Regions from separate parts of the Homo sapiens genome. Here region 1 is linked to region 2. A link means that fine-mapping ties the variant in region 2 to the expression of a gene that starts in the linked region. Tissue or cell type: whole blood. Region 2 holds a variant in brackets; the other region holds the start of a gene. All regions are shown on one strand. Distances are between the middles of the regions.

Evidence for each region. PIP is the estimated chance that this variant, and not a neighbour inherited with it, causes the effect.
Region 1: it holds the start of SEMA4B, and the variant in region 2 is fine-mapped to the expression of SEMA4B in whole blood (INTERVAL, PIP above 0.99).

Annotation. Positions count from the first base shown.
Region 1 is chr15:90,197,155-90,205,254 of GRCh38, reverse strand. It overlaps SEMA4B (semaphorin 4B), which reads right to left and starts at 3,925. Exons shown (of 14, transcript NM_198925.4): 1 at 3,520-3,925. The coding sequence starts at 3,676. RefSeq lists a silencer at 3,474-4,233 and an enhancer at 3,406-4,377.
Region 2 is chr15:90,141,264-90,149,363 of GRCh38, reverse strand. No RefSeq gene overlaps it. Among named protein-coding and RNA genes, the nearest start is that of IDH2, 43 kb to the right of the region's middle. RefSeq lists enhancers at 1-175, 5,289-5,823, 7,373-7,667. The variant T/C (reference allele first, on the strand shown) is at 3,777.

The DNA of each region.
Region 1 (8,100 bases), 56 kb before region 2:
AGGGCCAGAGGGCAAGCAGCTGATTTGTGCCAAATGCTCCATTCTCTCTGCTCAATGGCGTTTTGTTGACTGCAGTTTGCAGGCCTGCAGATTTCTGTCCAATCTGCTTCAGAAATACTGCGTCCAGAGCTTTCCCGCCCGGCACTTCTGGGGCAGGAGGGAATTAATAACTCCCTTTAAGGCCGGATGTGGTGGCTCATGCCTGTAATCCCAGCACTTTGGGAGGCCAAGATGGGCAGATCACCTAAGGTCAGAAGTTCGAGACCAGCCTGGACAACATGGTGAAATCCCATCTCTACAAAAATACAAAAATTAGCTAAGCATGGTGGCGGGCACCTGTAGTCTCAGCTGCTCGAGAGGCTGAGGCAGGAGAATCACTTGAACTTGGGAGGTGGAGGCTGCAGTGAGCGGAGATGGCATCACTGTACTCCAGCCTGGGAGACAGAGCGAAACTCCATCTCAAAATAACAATAATAATAACTCCCATTAAGTGTCCAAATAAGGTGGCCCAAAAAGACTTTGGAGGGCCATGAGAGGAGGCGTGTTTTGTTTCTCCCCACGTGGCCAGGCTGGGAAGCACTGGGCGCCATTGTTTCTACTCAGCACCACTCCTGCTCCTGACCGAGGCTTTGGTCCTGGAGCTCTGCATGGTAGTTCCAACGCAAGAGAACCCAAATTCCACACACTTCTTTGAAGTGTTCCTTTCAGAGATTTCCAGCTGACTGTGGAGCCCCCAGTGGCTGTCCCCTCATCCTCCTCTCCCTACTGGCCACTGGGCGAGGCCACAAATCGGCTCCCTGCATCTTAAGCACCCCAGGAATGTGCTGTTCATCAACAATAATTAGGGTTCCCTATGAAGGACCCCAGATGCAGGGCAAGCTGGACGCTCCACTTCAAGGGATTTTGTTTTAAACCACAGACATAGCCCCACTGTCCCTAGGCATCTGGGTCCTTACGGGGCATGGGTGGGAATTCAGTAGAGGAGTGAGTGGCAGGAGGAAAGAGGGGTGTGTAATATCCAGTTCCATGACTCTTTCTCCTAAGATGCATGCAAGGGAGGGCACTAGGGCCCTGGGCCCGGCGTCCCATGGTCACCACGAGCCTGCCCAGGATGGGCACACTGCCAGGAACATCTAATGAGCCCCCTGGGATGAGGCAGGAAACCGCCTTAGGCCACACTCAAGGGTGAGCCTGTTCAGTTACCAGGGCATTCCCCTCTCGGACTCCCAGCCAGCCCTAGGACCTGCACGTAGGTAAGAGTAGGAGGTGGGTATGAGGGCCAGGAGGAAGCCCAGAGAGGGGGCACTCCAGGGTATAGTGGCAACTCAGTCGACTATAGATACGTGCTCACAAGTTCAGGTAGCTAGGTGCCACTACACTATTCCAGGGCTTTGGTGGGACTGGAAAAATGGGCCACTCCGGGCAGACCTAGCCCCAAGAACATAGCAGAAGGGGTCTTTTGCTCCAGGACTCTTAGGTTGGAGAGCTGAGTGTGGACTGCATTTCAGGTCCTCTCAACCCTCAGCTGGGCACCTTGGTACAATGCACAAAATGCAAGCCCACCTACGGCAGCCCTGACAGGTGAATGCTGGTGCGTGACAGAAGCCTGGGAACAGTCACGGGCTTGTAGAAGTGGACCAGGTCCTGCAGCTGCATTGGTAATAATAACCAAGTATTCTAGCTGCTCCTCGGGAAGCAGGTCCCCTCGATTCCCCTCGCTGCTCTCCAGTTTTGCCTTCTAGCTACCCTGTGATTGTCCCATCCAGTTCCAGAGTTGGACATGAAACCTACCGTCTTTTGACATGGTCCCATGAGCTGGCCCAGCTTTCCCAAGGCCATAAGTGGAGTCCATTGGAGCATCTGCCCCCATCTCACCCTGCCTTCTCCCAAAAATGAGAGGGTCTGAGGGCAAAGGGAGTTGTGGCCACAACAGAAGTAGCAAGACAGCAGGCCTGGGGCTGGTTACACCTGTTCATCCTGACTTCACAAGCTGAAGCACCCAAGGGGCTACAGTCAAACTAACACCCCAACCCTGTCCTAACCCCAGGCAGAATCACCCCAGATCTGGGCAAGATGTACAGAAGTAAACTCTGAGCTGAGTAACACTCATTCAGCGGTTCCCGTACCAGGCCCTGTCCTAACGACTTTTCAAACACGAGCTGATTTAATCCTCACTACCTTGAGGTAGGTTCTGTTATTATACCTGTTTTACAGATGAAGAAATCAAGACCCAGAAACTTTAAGTAGCCTGCTCAAGGTCACATGGTTACTAAGTGGCTGAGGTAGCATTTGAACCCAGGTCATCTGCAGTATTTCAGACAGGGGTTCAGGTAGGGTTACTTGAAGCCGCTAGGGCCCTGCCTTAATTTAAGTGCTGATTCTACTATTTCCCTTTGTAAACAGGATGCTTTTAGAGGTGGGGATGCTGTGAGGAGATGGAAGTCTGGGACAGTTTCAGTCTGTAACCTCTAATTCATACATGCTTTATTCCAAGTCATACAATATGACAACCAACAAGTTAAAGGGCTTGCGGATACATCTGTTGGGCACTTATAAACTTCATACCCGAGTAACACACCTTGCAAGGCACCTACGACTGCCTATTTTGCAGATGAGAAAGGTGGGGCACTGGGAGCAGAAGGCACTTACTTGCCCAGTGGAAGAAATGGGCTTGGGATCCAGGACCCTCTGAATCTAAAGCCCAAGTGCCCCAAGAAGAGCTGGAGAAGCAACCGGATGGAAGGGAAAAGGAGAGGGAAGGGCGGAGGGCTGAAACAGGAGGTGGCCACAGAAGCAGATGTGAGGACCAGGAAAGGAACCCAGCCAACCAGGATGCTACTCCCAGGTCACTCTGAGGAGGGGTCGCGCCCAGGACTTGGGAATGTCAGCGCCCAGAGCTGCCCCCATCCGCAGTCTGTTCGCTCCCAGGACTTGGGAATGTCAGCGCCCAGAGCTGCCCCCATCCGCAGTCTGGTCGCTCCCAGGGCCTGGAGGTCTCTCCATGCTGGGGCTTGGGGCTGCACTGGCAAGCCAGGGATGGAGGGGCGGAGAGGGAGGATCGGGCGCCTGCCCGCCCACCACAGCTCCCGGCCCTGCTGCGACTTGCTGGGAATACCAGAACCCCAGTGTTTATAGGACTGCAAGCAGTGGCCTCCCTCTACCCCGAGCCGCCCTCGGGGGCGGCACCGCGGTCGGCTCTGGTCAGCATCAAAGACAAGTAGATGGGCAGGCGGACCCCGCCGAAAGTGCATCCTCCTAAGGGAACTAGGGGGGACGACAGAGCGGGCTAGACCCCATCCCTACGCAGAAAGAAAACTGAAGAAAGGGGCCAGCGGCCCCACAGCTCCCCTCTCCTCTCCCTCCCTCCGCGCAGCGCCTTGAAAAAAGAAGGGGTCCTAATGGATCCCGTGCCTCCGACAGGTCCCCTCCTTGGTCCTTTGTCACGGCCACCTCCGCACGAGGCACGTCCCCGGCAGCCTTCCTTCCCCCGGCCCGCGTCCCCGGGTCCCCGGCACTCACCCAGAGGCAGGCTGATCCGGGGGCTGAGCGCCCAGGTCGGAGGCGGCGGCTGCAGCAGGAGCAGCAGCAGCAGGAGCAGCAGCAGCGGTGGCCGAGGCGGCAGCGCGCCCCATGGGGCGGCGAGCCAGCTCCTCAGGCCCATCGCGGTGCGCAGCATTCGGAGAGCAGGAGCGACGGTGTCCCGCGGCTCGGGCTCAGGTGGCTCGGCCGGACTCACGGGCGGCAGCTCCGCCCCGCGGTCCGCCCCCGAGTCGCCCCGGGGGCCCCCGCCTCCGGACCTGGGGGGCGGGAGGTGGGAAACAGGGTCAAGTGGGCCCTGGCAAACTCAGCCCCTCCGCGGGGCACCGCAGTCCTCCCGCCGGCGCCGGCCCCGCAGCCTCGGCTTGGGCAGAGCTCACCCGCAAGCGGCGGAGGGCGGGGCTGAAGGAGGAAGTCGGCCGTGAGCCCGGCCGGCCCGCCCCCTTCCCCCTTCCTCCTTCCCGGGCGCTGGCAGCGCGAGGGGCGGCAGCTCGGGGCGCTGCCGCAGGGGCCAAGCCCGGGATCAGTAGCCCCGGCGGCCGCCGGAGCGCTGGGACGCGGACGAAAGCCGACCCCCAGCTCCCCGCCCCCACTGCTCAGACCCTCCCACCGCCGCCCAGGCCCTGGCCCCTTCCGGCTCCTCTGGGACCCTCTGCTAGTGGCGTTGGTTTGGGGACACGCTGCGTCCCCGCTATGCGCCTAGGGAGTTAGGGGGCGGATGGTGATTAGGCCTTGGTCTCCTCCCTTTAGGCGCCCCCTCCGCTCTTGCTCCTGGCGACCCCCTTGTTCCTGCGACCAAATGAACTCGGCCGAGCTCGTGCTGACACTGGGGCTAGCAGCTTGAGAGTCCAATTTTTGCACAGGTCAATCCACTGCAAGTCATGGCTGGGCATTCACTACAAGCTCAGCACTTAGTCTAGGCACCCTGCGGGCTTGTCCGCTTAATATTCTGTCCACGCGAAGCCCTCGGGTGGGGGAAGGGCAAGATTAGCTTAAGTGGGATAATAGGATTTAATGTACTGCTGAGGAGGTAAAACCTTCACAACCTGCACGTGACCCGGCAGGGGAAGGGAACCCCTAAGACTGGAGTGGAAGCCCAGAGGCACCCACCCCTAATCCTCCTGGCTCCTAACATCTCCACGGGTGGAGTTCAGCTCTGCTGAGACCAGGGGTTTCCAACTGCAGCCTGGACCATTAGCAGATTCTGAAATCAATTTAGTGGATCCCAACAGCATTAAGAAACAAACAAAACATAGAAACTATCTAAGCAATAATCTCAAAGGATAAGTAATTTTGGGAAAGCTACTTCAACTTTTCCTAAGTGTGCACAGGATTACAGAAAAATGTAGTAGTTCCTCCTGTAGTTAAGAGTCCAAAAGAGTGAAAGCCTCTGCTAGTTATTTCCATGGCAGTAGAGACCATCGCTCCATAAATTTGCTGCAATTGCAGGAAAGCTCCTCTTCACCCCCAGCCAAAATCAGCCTCCTCAGAGCACCTCTTTTCCTCTCCTCCCGACTTTCAGGGTCTGCCACATCTGCTCCCACAACAGGGATGCTGTCAAGAGGGTGGGCACAGCACCCACATGGTCCCAGGTCTCCTTTCTTACAGCTAAGTTTCCTCATGCTGCATGATTTCTGTACCTCCATCACCTTCTGTGGACATGGTGCAGGCTAGCAGCATCCCTTTTAAAGGGGCTCCCAGAACTGGACACAGAATTCCACATGGGATATGGACAGCACCAAGCACCCACAGTGCTACTATTGCCCAGGTTTGGATGCTTACTCTAAATGGGTTCAATCCACCTACAGCCAGTGATACCCAAACCCCTATCTGCCGCCTAGTCCAGCCCTGCTCAGCCCTTAACTCCAAAAGGCCTCAACTTTTTTTTTTTTGAGACAGAGTCTTGCTCTTTTGCCCAGGCTGGAGTGCAATGGTGCAATCTCCACTCACTGCAACCTCTGCCTTCTGGGTTCAAGTGATTCTCCTGCCTCAGCCTCCCGAGTAGCTGAGATTACAGGTTTATGCCACCACACCCCGCTAATTTTTTGTATTTTTAATAGAGACAGGGTTTCACAATGTTGGCCAGGCTGGTCTTGAACTCCTGACCTCGTGATCCACCTGCCTTGGCCTCCCAAAGTGCTGGGATTTCAGGCGTGAGCCACCACACCTGACCCGGCCTCAATATTTCTACTTGGCTGTCTGAAAACCATCTCGAGCCCAACATGTCCCAAACTAAGCTCCTGATCTCTCCCCCTTCTCAAAAATGTGCTCCACCTACAGCCTTCCCCATTTCATTTAATGGCAATTCCATCTTTAAATTGCTCAGGCCAAAACCCTCAGCTCCTCTCATTATCTCACTCCTCACATCCAGTCCATTAGAAAATCTATAATCTGACCACTTCCCAGCTCCCTAGGGCCCAGGCACCACCCTCTTTCTCCTGGTTACTGCAAGGGCCTCCTAACTGTTCTCCCCGTTTCCTCCTTGGTTCCCCTACAATCTATTCTCAACACAGCAGCTGGAGTGAGTCTTTAAAACACAAGCCAGGACAGGGGTGGTGGCTCACGCCTGTAATCCCAGCACTTTGGTGGGCCGAGGCGGGCAGATCACTTGAGGTCAGGAGTTCAAGACCAGCCTGGCCAACATGGTGAATCCCCATCTCTACTAAGAACACAAAAATTAGCTGGGCATGGTGGTGTGTGCCTGTAATCCCAGCTACTCGGGAGGCTGAGGCAGGAGAATTGCTTGAACCGGGGCCTGGGAGGCGGAGGTTGCAGTGAGCTGAGATTGTGCTACTGCACTCCAGCCTGGGCTACAGAGCAAGACTCCATCTTAAACAAAACAACACACAACACAAGCCAGATCAGGGCTTTCCTCTGCTCAAAACCCTCCAAGGGTTCCCCCATCTCATTCACAATGACCTTACTTGGAGTGGTCTGCAAAGCCCTCCATGTCATCCTCACCACCAGTACCACTGCATCCTCTACTACTTTTCCCCTCACTCATCCACACCAGGTACATATATAGTAGCCCGAACCAGCAGGGCCTTTGACCTGGCTGCTCCCTCACCTGGCACACTCTCCCCCTAGATAACCACAGGACTGAGTCCCTTGCTTCCTTTTGCTCATTTATCACCTTGAAGAATCTGAACTTCCTCCTAATATGCCCCTTATCTCCTTAAAAATACCTTGAGATATTTTTTCAGAGCACTCATCACTGAATAACATACGATATATTAGTTATGGTTTTTCTTTATTGTCTGACATCCCATCTCCCCCAGAATGCTGACTGAGAGGGCAGAGATTTTTGCTTATTTGGTTTGTTAAGTAATGTATCTCAAGCCTCTAGAATAGTGCTTGGCACATGGTAAGCAGGACTTCAGTAAGTACTGGATGAATGAATGAATGAATGCAACTTGAGTCACAGAATACTGCTGACTCATGTCAGCTGACAACCAGAACTATTTTTTTTATATCAACTTTGGTCCAATAAAGAGTTTTACCAGCCAGGCGCGGTGGCTCACGCCTGTAATCCCAGCACTTTAGGAGGCCGAGGCAGGCGGATCACGAGGTCAGGAGATCGAGACCATGGTGAAACCCCGTCTCTAATAAAAATACAAAAAAAAATTAGCCGGGCACAGTGGTGGGTGCCTGTAGTCCCAGCTACTCAGGAGGCTGAGGCAGGAGAATGGCGCGAACCCGGGAGGTGGAGCTTGCAGTGAGCCGAGATCACGCCACTGCACTCCAGCCTGGGCCACAGAGCGAGACTCCATCTCAAAAAAAAAAAAAATTAATTAATTAATTAATAATAAAATAAATAAATCTAGTGGTTCTGGCTCAGATGTCATCCCACTGAAGTCATGTTGAAAACTGATTCTATTATCATACATTTGGCTTCCCCTTCCAGTATGGGGTCATCTGTAAACATGATAACCATTCCTTATGCCTTTATTCAAGCTATTGATAAAAATATTGGGTGAGCAGGGCCGGGCATGGTGGCTCACGCCTGTAATCCCAGCACTTTGGGAGGCCGAGGTGCGCGGATCATGAGGTCAGGAGCTCGAGACCATCCTGGCTAACACAGTAAAACCCCATCTCTACTAAAAATACAAAAAATTAGCCGGGCGTGGTGGCGGGCGCCTGTAGTCCCAGCTACTCGGGAGGCTGAGGCAGGAGAATGGCGTGAACCCGGGAGGCGGAGCTTGCAGTGAGCCGAGATCGCGCCACTGCACTCCAGCCTGGGGGACAGAGCGAGACTCCGTCCCAAAAAAACAAAAATTGGGTGAGCAGATCTAGCACCTAAATCTTCGTTTACTTTTTTCTTTTTTATTGAGAGAGGGTCTCACTCTGTCACCCAGGCTGGAGTACAGTGGCAAGATCTCAGCTCACTACAACCTCCACCTCTCAGGCTCAAGCAATCCTTCCACCTGAGCCTCCTGAGTAGCTGGGACTACAGGCATGCACCACCACACTCGGATAATTTTTGTAATTTTTTTGTAGAGAAAGGGGTTTCACCACGTTGCCCAGGCTGGTCTCAAACTCCTGGACTCAAGCGATCTGCCCACC
Region 2 (8,100 bases):
CCAGAAATGTTTCCCCTTGAGCTGAAGCTTATCAGAGAACAGAAAGATAGGTGGAACCACGTTCCAGTGTAGATGAAACTGACCAATATGATAAGAAAATGAAACTGTGAACATGTATGAGTAAGCCCCAGGGTTTTGTGTGGCCATCTTCAGGGACTCTTGTAGGCAGTGACGACATGGTAGGCTTGGGAAGCTCTCTGGGCTCACTCCTACATTCTCTGAACACTAGACTGTAAGTAGTAGAGAAGTAAGGGCTCTTGCCTATATATTGGATTATTGTTTTCTTTCTTTCTTTCTTCCCTCCTTCCTTCCTTCCTTCCTCTCTCTCTCTTTCTTTCTTTCTTTCTTTTTGAGATAGAGTCTTGCTCTGTCACCCAGGCTGGAGTGCAGTGGCGCAATCTTGGCTTGCTGCAACCTCCGCCTCCAGGGTTCAAGCAGATTCTCCTGCTTCAGCCTCCCAAGTAGCTGAGACTACAGGCACGCACCACCACACCTGGCTAATTTTTGTATTTTTAGTAGAGATGGGGTTTCACCATGTTGGCCAGGCTGGTCTTGAACTCCTGACCTCAAGTGGTCTGCCTGCCTCGGCCTCCCAAAGTGCCGGGATTACAGGTGTGAGCCACTGCACCCAGCTGCAAGCAGCTTTTTGATGACCTCCTATGGGAGATGAGATTTGTGAAGCTGACAGCATAGCACAGTTGTTAGGACACCAGACTGTGGACCCTCAGTTGGCTGACCTTGGTGGCTCAGATTCCAGCTCAGCCCTTTTCTTTCTGGGTAGCAATGGGCAAAGTGCTGAAGCACTTTCTGTGTAAATTTTCTCATCTGTAAAATGAGGATAACAAAAGCACAGTTGTGAGGACTAACACAGCTAAAGCACTTAGACAGCTGCATCTAATAGTGTAGCCATCAGCCACAGTACCTACTGAGCACTTGAAATGTGGCTTGTCTATCCCAGCTACTTGGGAGGCTGAGGCAAGGAGAATTGCTTGAACCTGGGAGGCGGAGGTTGCAGTGAGCTGAGATCGTAACAATGCGAGACTCCATCTCAAAAAAAAAAAAGAAAAAGTAAAACAAAAAGAAAACGTGGTTTGTCTAAACTGAGATGTACCCTGCGTGGTGCTCGCGCCTGTAATCCCAACACTTTGGGAGGCTGAGTCGGGAGGCCAGGCACAGTGGCTCACACCTGTAATCCCAACAGTTTGAGAAGCTGAGGCGGGAGGATCGCTTGAGCCCAGGAGTTTGTGACCAGCCTGGACAACATGGTGAGACCCTGTCTCTACAAAAAAAAAAAAAAAAATTTAAAAATTAGCCTGGTGTGGTGGCATGTGCCTGTAGTCTCAGCTACTCGGGAGGCTGAGGAAGGAGGACTGCTTGAGTTTAGAAGGTCAAAGCTGCAGTGAGCCATGATTGTGCCACTGCACTCCAGCCAGGGTGACAGAGTGAGACCCTGTCTCAAAAAAACAAAACAAACAAAAAAACCCTGAAATGTGATGTATGCATAAATTCACATCGGATTTTGAAGACTTCATACAAAAAAGGCCAGGTGCAATAGCTCATACCTGTAATCCCAGCACTTTGGGAGGCTGAGGTGGGTGGATTGTTTGAGTCCAGGAGTTTGAGACCAGCCTGGGCAACATCGTGAAACCCCATCTTTACAAAAAATACAAAACATTATCAGGGCCTGGTGGTACGCGCCTATAGTCCCAACTACTCGGGAGGCTGAGGTGGAAGGATCACCTGAGCCTAGGGGAGGTCAAGGATGTAGTGAGTTGTGATCGTGCCACACTCCAGTCTAGGCAACAGAGTGAGACCCTGTCTCAAAAAAAAGTAAAATAACTCCCTAATTATTGATTATATTGGGTTACATAGAATATATTGTAATACATAGAATATATTATTTGTTTGTTTGTTTTTGAGATGGAGTCTCACTCTGTTGCCCAGGCTGGAGTGTAGTGGCACCATCTCGGCTCACTGCAACCTCCACCTCCAGGCTGGAGTGTAGTGGCACCATCTCGGCTCACTGCAACCTCCACCTCCAGGCTTCAACCGGTTCTTCTGCCTCAGCCTCCTGAGTAGCTGGGATTACAGGCGTATGCCATCACGCCTGGCTAATTTTTGTATTTTTGGTAGAGACGGGCTTTCCCCATATTGGCCAGGCTGGTCTTGAACTTCTGACCTCAAGTGATCTGCCTGCCTCAGCCTCCCAAACTGCTGGGAGGACAGGAGTGAGCCACCACACTCAGTCTAAATAGAATATATTATTACAATTAATTTCACCAGTGGGTTTTTTGTTTTTACTTTTAAAAATGCAGCTACTAGAGTTTTTAAAACTACGCTCTTTTCTGCCATGGTGAAAAGTAAATTAATAAATTAAAAAACAACTACTAGGCCAGGCGCAGTGGCTCACGCCTGTAATCCTAGCACTTTGGGAGGCCGAGGCGGGCGGATCACCTGAGGTCTGGAGTTTGAGACCAGCCTGACCAACATGGAGAAACCCCATCTCCACTAAAAATACAAAATTAGCCGGGCATGGTGGCACATGCCTGTAATCCCAGCTACTCGGGAGGCTGAGGCAGGAGAGTCACTTGAACCCGGGAGGCGGAGGTTGCGGTGAGCCAAGATCACACTATTGCACTCCAGCCTGGGCAACAAGAGTGAAACTCCATCTCAAAAAAAACCCAAAAACAAACATTAACAACAACAACAAAACTACCTATGTGGCTTGCATTATGTGTTTATTGGACAGCAGCTGCTTAGAACAAGCCTGGTGTGGAGTAAGTCAGTGTAATTGTTAGCTGCTGTCAGTGTTCAGTGCCTGACACGTGGTAAGGGCTTATTGAAGAGCAGTTTTTTGGTTTTTGTTTTGTTTTGAAATGGAGTCTAGTTCTTTCACCCAGGCTGGAGTGCGGTGGTGCGATCTCAGCTCACTGCAACCTCCGCCTCCCAGGTTCAAGTGATTCTCATGCCTCAGCCTCCTGAGTAGCTGGGATTACAGGTGCTCCCCACCATGCCTGGCTAATTTTTGTATTTTTAGTAGAGACCGGGTTTCACCATGTTGGCCAGGCTGGTCTCAAACTACTGAACTCAGGCAATCTGCCTGCCTTAAACTCCCAAAGTGCTAGGATTATGAGCATGAGCAACCATGCCTGGCCTGTTTTTTTTTTTTTTCTTTTTTTGTGACAGGGTCTCACTTTGTCGTCCAGGCTGAATGAGTGTAGTGGTGTGATGTCAGCTCACTGCAGCCTAGATGTTCTGGGCTCACACAGTCCTCTCACCTCAGCCTTCTGAATAGCTCTGACTATAGGCATACACCACCATGTCCTGCTAAGTTTTCTACTTTTTTAGAGACGGGGTCTTGCTATGTTGCCCAGGCTGGTCGCAAACTCCTAGGCTCAAGCGATCCTCCTGCCTCAACTTCCCAAAGTGTTGGGATTACAGGTGGAGAGCCACTGTGCCTGGCCTTGAATGGCAGTTTTGAAGACTTCTCTCCATCCCCTCTCTTGCCTCTCTGCCTTGGCAATCCAACCTGGAAAGCATTGTCTGTTTCCTTCCCAGCTTGTCCTATTCACCGGCAGTGAGAGCCCTGTCTTTCCTTTGATCCTCCCAACTCCCAGTGCCTCTCCAGGGGTGCTGAGCCCCCCAGTGGATTTCCATGCTGGTGGGACTTTCTGGGTGTCCAGTTTCCCATCACCTCCCCTCTCCCACCAGCTCTGGGCCCGAGTACCTCTGCGTTCCCCCGGAGTCCACCCACCTGGGGTGTTGTGATCACTCTT[T/C]GCCATCGTCACTCTCGGGTTTTCTCCTTAGGCCCTGCTCTTCTGAGGCTTGATCTGTGATGCCGGGAGAGGTGGGACGCTGCCAGAAGGGGCTACTGGCAGGCTGCCAAGAGGCTGCCCACAGAGGCCTTTGCCCTGACAAATTCACCCCTGGGGCCCTGGGTCTGCCCTCCGCCTGGCAGCTGGTGGAGAGGAGAGCCAGGTCCCAGCTGTGGACTCAGACTAATCAATTGCTCAGGAGGCCAATATATACACCAGGTGGTAAGTTTCCAATGCATTTAGCAGGGTGAGACCGGTTTTTGTTTAGGAAAATATCTTGATAGCCACTTTTGTTGAGGAAGGGGAGGTGCTAAGGACATAGTTGAAGGAAGATGTTTAAACACAGGAGGAATCAAACGGCTTTACAGAGAACGTTAACCGGAACTTGGGGGCGAGGGACCCCAAAAGAGAAGAAGAAATGGAAAGATGGTCATAGAAATGAAGGGTGAAGGAGGGAGGAGGGAGGGAGAAAACAAAATGGCAAGGGCAGAGCCTGGGAGGTATGTGTCCACTGAGAATTTCACAGTGGCGGGGAGACCAAAGGGCTTTTTTTTTTTTTTTGAGACTCTTGTTGCCCAGGCTGGAGTGCAATGGCGTGATCTCAGCTCACTGCAACCTCCGCCTCTGGGTTCAAGTGATTCTCCTACCTCAGCCTCCCGAGTAGCTCGGATTACGGGCATGTGCTGCCACACCCAGCTAATTTTGTATTTTTAGTAAGATGGAGTTTCTCGATGTTGGTCATGTTGGTCTTGAACTCCCAACCTCAGGTGATCCGCCCGCCTCAGCCTCCCAAAGTGTTGGGATCACAGGAGTGAGCCACTGCACCCAGCCTCGAAGGACTTTTTTTTTTTCTTTTCTTTTTTTTTTTTTGGTGATGGAGTCTTGCTCTGTGGCCCAGGCTGGAGTACAGTGGTGCGATCTCAGCTCACTACAGCTTCTGCCTCCCAGGTTCAAGCAATTCTCCTGCCTCAGCCTCCTGAGTAGCTGGGACTACGGGCGCATGCCACCACCCCCGGCTAATTCTTTAATTTTTAGTAAAGACGGGGTTTCACCATGTTGGCCAGGCTGGTCTCGAACTCTTGTCCTTGTGATCTGCCTGTCTTGGCCTCCCAAAGTGTTGGGATTACAGGCATGAGCCACCATGCCAGACCTCAAAGGACTTTTAAGAACAGGATCTGTACTATTCTTTTTGAAATGGTTTGTTTTCCTACTAAGTACACCCCAGTACACCCCTCTATTGCCCAAGCCTTCAGTAAAAGCTGTAGCTCATGTGACAAGAAAGCATAGAAAGGCCGGGCACGGTGGCTCACACCTGTAATCCCAGCACTTTCACTTTGGGAGGCTGAGGCGGGTGGGTCACCTGAGGTCAGGAGTTTGAGACCAGCCTGGCCAACATGGTGAAACCGCATCTCCATTAAAAATACGAAAAAGCCGGGCGTTGTGGCTCACGCCTGTAATCCCAGCACTTTGGGAGGCCAAGGTGGGTGGATCACGAGGTCAAAAGTTCAAGACCAGCCTGATCAACATGGTGAAACCCCATCTCTACCAGAAATACAAAAATTAGCCGGGTGTGGTGGCGGGTGTCTGTAGTCCCAGCTACTCGGGAGGCTGAGACAGGAGAATCGCTTGAACCTGGGAGGCAGAGGTTACAGTGAGCTGAGATCACGTCACTGCACTCCAGTCTGGGTGACAGAAAAAGACTGTCTCATTAAAAAAAAAAAAGAAAGAAAGAAAAGAAAGAAAAAAGAAAGCATAGAAAGAGGGCTTTTTTTTTTTTTTTTTCTAGGATGGGCACAGAGCAGAGGGACATCACCGGGAAGTGAGAGGCAGGGACTCAGGAGGTCAACACTGCAGGACTGGGGCCAGGGGCACTGGAAAGCCCTCTAGAATCCTGGAAGCAGTGAGGAGAATGTCCGGGGCCCGACTGCCATGGGCTAGGAGTAGGAGGAGACTCGATTTAGAGCTCGAAGGCTAGGGCCACCCAAGCTGTGCAACTGGGCCCAGCCTGGGCAGCTGTCATGCTCGGGCACTTTGTCCCTATCCAGCCTTACCTCATGGCCAGACCAGCATAAAAAACAGGCCTGCGGGGAGGGCCTGGCGGGACTGAGTCTTGTCAAGGAGTAATCTGGGGCTGCACACAGCTGGCCCTGGCTGTGGTGTGATAAAGGACTCGCCCCAGCCAGGGGCTCAGCCCACTGCCCCTCCCCAGGTAGACACTGCCACCTTCTGGCTGTTCGTCAACTGGCTGCCGGCCCCCGCCTCCTCCACACCTCCTTCAAGACAGGCTTTCTCCTCACCAAGAAACAGAATTGTGGAGGTTTCCTTTACCTGCTTACAATCCTGTCTTCCCGGGCTCCCATAAGGTCACTTGAATTAGAGTCTGGGTGATCCCAACCTTTAAAAACAACTTTACAAAACAATCTTTTGAGAGTACCTCTAAAGTGTTCTCGTTTTTTTTAAAAAAATGGGTAACAACGGTAACTATGGGAGGTGATGAGTGTGTCAATCAGCTTGATTGTCATAATCATCTCACGTGTCCATATACCAAGTCATCACGTTGTATGCTTTTAATATGTATACTTTTATTTGTCAATTGTATTTCAACAAAGCAGAAAAAAACCACTCTAGTCTTTTGGTCTCCTCCCACTGATGGCTTCCCACAACTGTCGCTGCCTCATTTTTCAGTTGATTGGGGGCAGGGCCCCACGGTGTGGTGTCACCGTCACTGGTATAAAGGCATTTGAGGCTACAGACACTGTTCCTGGTCGTTCCTCCTTGGTTTTTGTTGTTTTGTTTGCTGGTTGGTGGGGTGTTTTTCTTTTTGTCTTTTTTTTTTTTTTTGAGACGGAGCCTTGCTCTGTCACCCAGGCTGCAGTGCAATGGTGTGATCTCAGCTCACTGCAACCTCTGCCTCCCTAGTTCAAGAGATTCTCCTGCCTCAGTCTCCCAAGTAGCTGGGATTACAGGCACCCACCACCACACCCGGCTAATTTTTGTATTTTTAGTAGAGACTGAGTTTCACCATGTTGGCCAGACTGGTCTAGAACTCTTGACCTTGTGATCTGCCCACCTCAGCCTCCCAAAGTGCCGGGATTACAGGTGTGAGCCGCGGCGCCCAGCCGGTGGGGTGTTTTTTGCTGGGATTCCCCGGGCCTCTCCACTACTGTGCTCTGCGCCGGCGGGTTTGCCGGGATCCCCGTAACCAGCTTCTTGAGTTTATCAAGGTGTTTGTCTCCCTCCACAGCAACAGTTTGTTAATTTTCTCTCTCTCCTTACCTGAATATGGGGAAATGCTTTCCTGCCTTTCCTCCTGAGAATCACTCTATCCTGGCCAAAAACCCTTTGTTTTGGTCTCTCCAAGTCAGTGCTGAAACCCAAGCTTTCTCCACCAAAGGGAGTCCCAGCTCTTCACCTCCCAAATCTTCCCGTTCCCAAGTCCCAAACAGGGAAGAGAGCTCGGGCAACTGTGGAGATTGGAGTCTTGCCTTAGACTCCAAGGACCAGGCCCTTGTCCAGGGAAGCCCTTGGTCCTGTGGAATCTGCAGGGGTGGGGGTGGGGAGACTGCTGGAGAGACCTCTGGGTGACACGTTCCCCCCGACACAATGGAAACTCACATGGTCCAGCTGTCCATCCTCCACGGGCTCCACTCCCCACCCGTCCCTGGCTTGCAGATCCTCTTAACACGGCATGTTTCCTTCCCTCCCCTCCACAGAGTTGGCTGACTCATTAGGCACTTCCCACAGTCCAGTTCCTTCATCCCCCTGCCGCTCCTGCCACAAGCTTGCTGCTGGAGTCTGGAGGACCTCAAATATTTCCAAGGACGTCAGACTTTGGGAGGCTGAGGACTTCACGGCCCGAGGGGAGAGCAAGCCGTCCGGCCGCTGAGACCCACTCAGAGCACGAACAGGGCAGGTGCTCAGAGGGCTCGCCCTCCCATCCACCCCAAACTGGCTGTTGGACATTCTAGTGTTGACCGAGAGAAAGAAGCTGAGGCAAAATCAATATACAGGGTTAATTTGGGCCAAGAGTGAGGACAGCCATTGGGGACACACTTCAAGTTGCCTTGGGGTACGCTGTGTGTTCGGCTTTTGTTACAAGCAGGCCTTTAAAGGCAAAAGGGGACAAGGAGTGGGTGATTCAACAATGTTCTTATTAGTTTGCAGGAATAACATTGGCTTGTGATTGGCTATGCATTGTTGAGCTATGGGGTATGAGTTATAGTGTCTGGAATATGGCATTTTATGGCTATGTGGTGGTGTCAGTTAGTCTAGAGCCCATATAGCA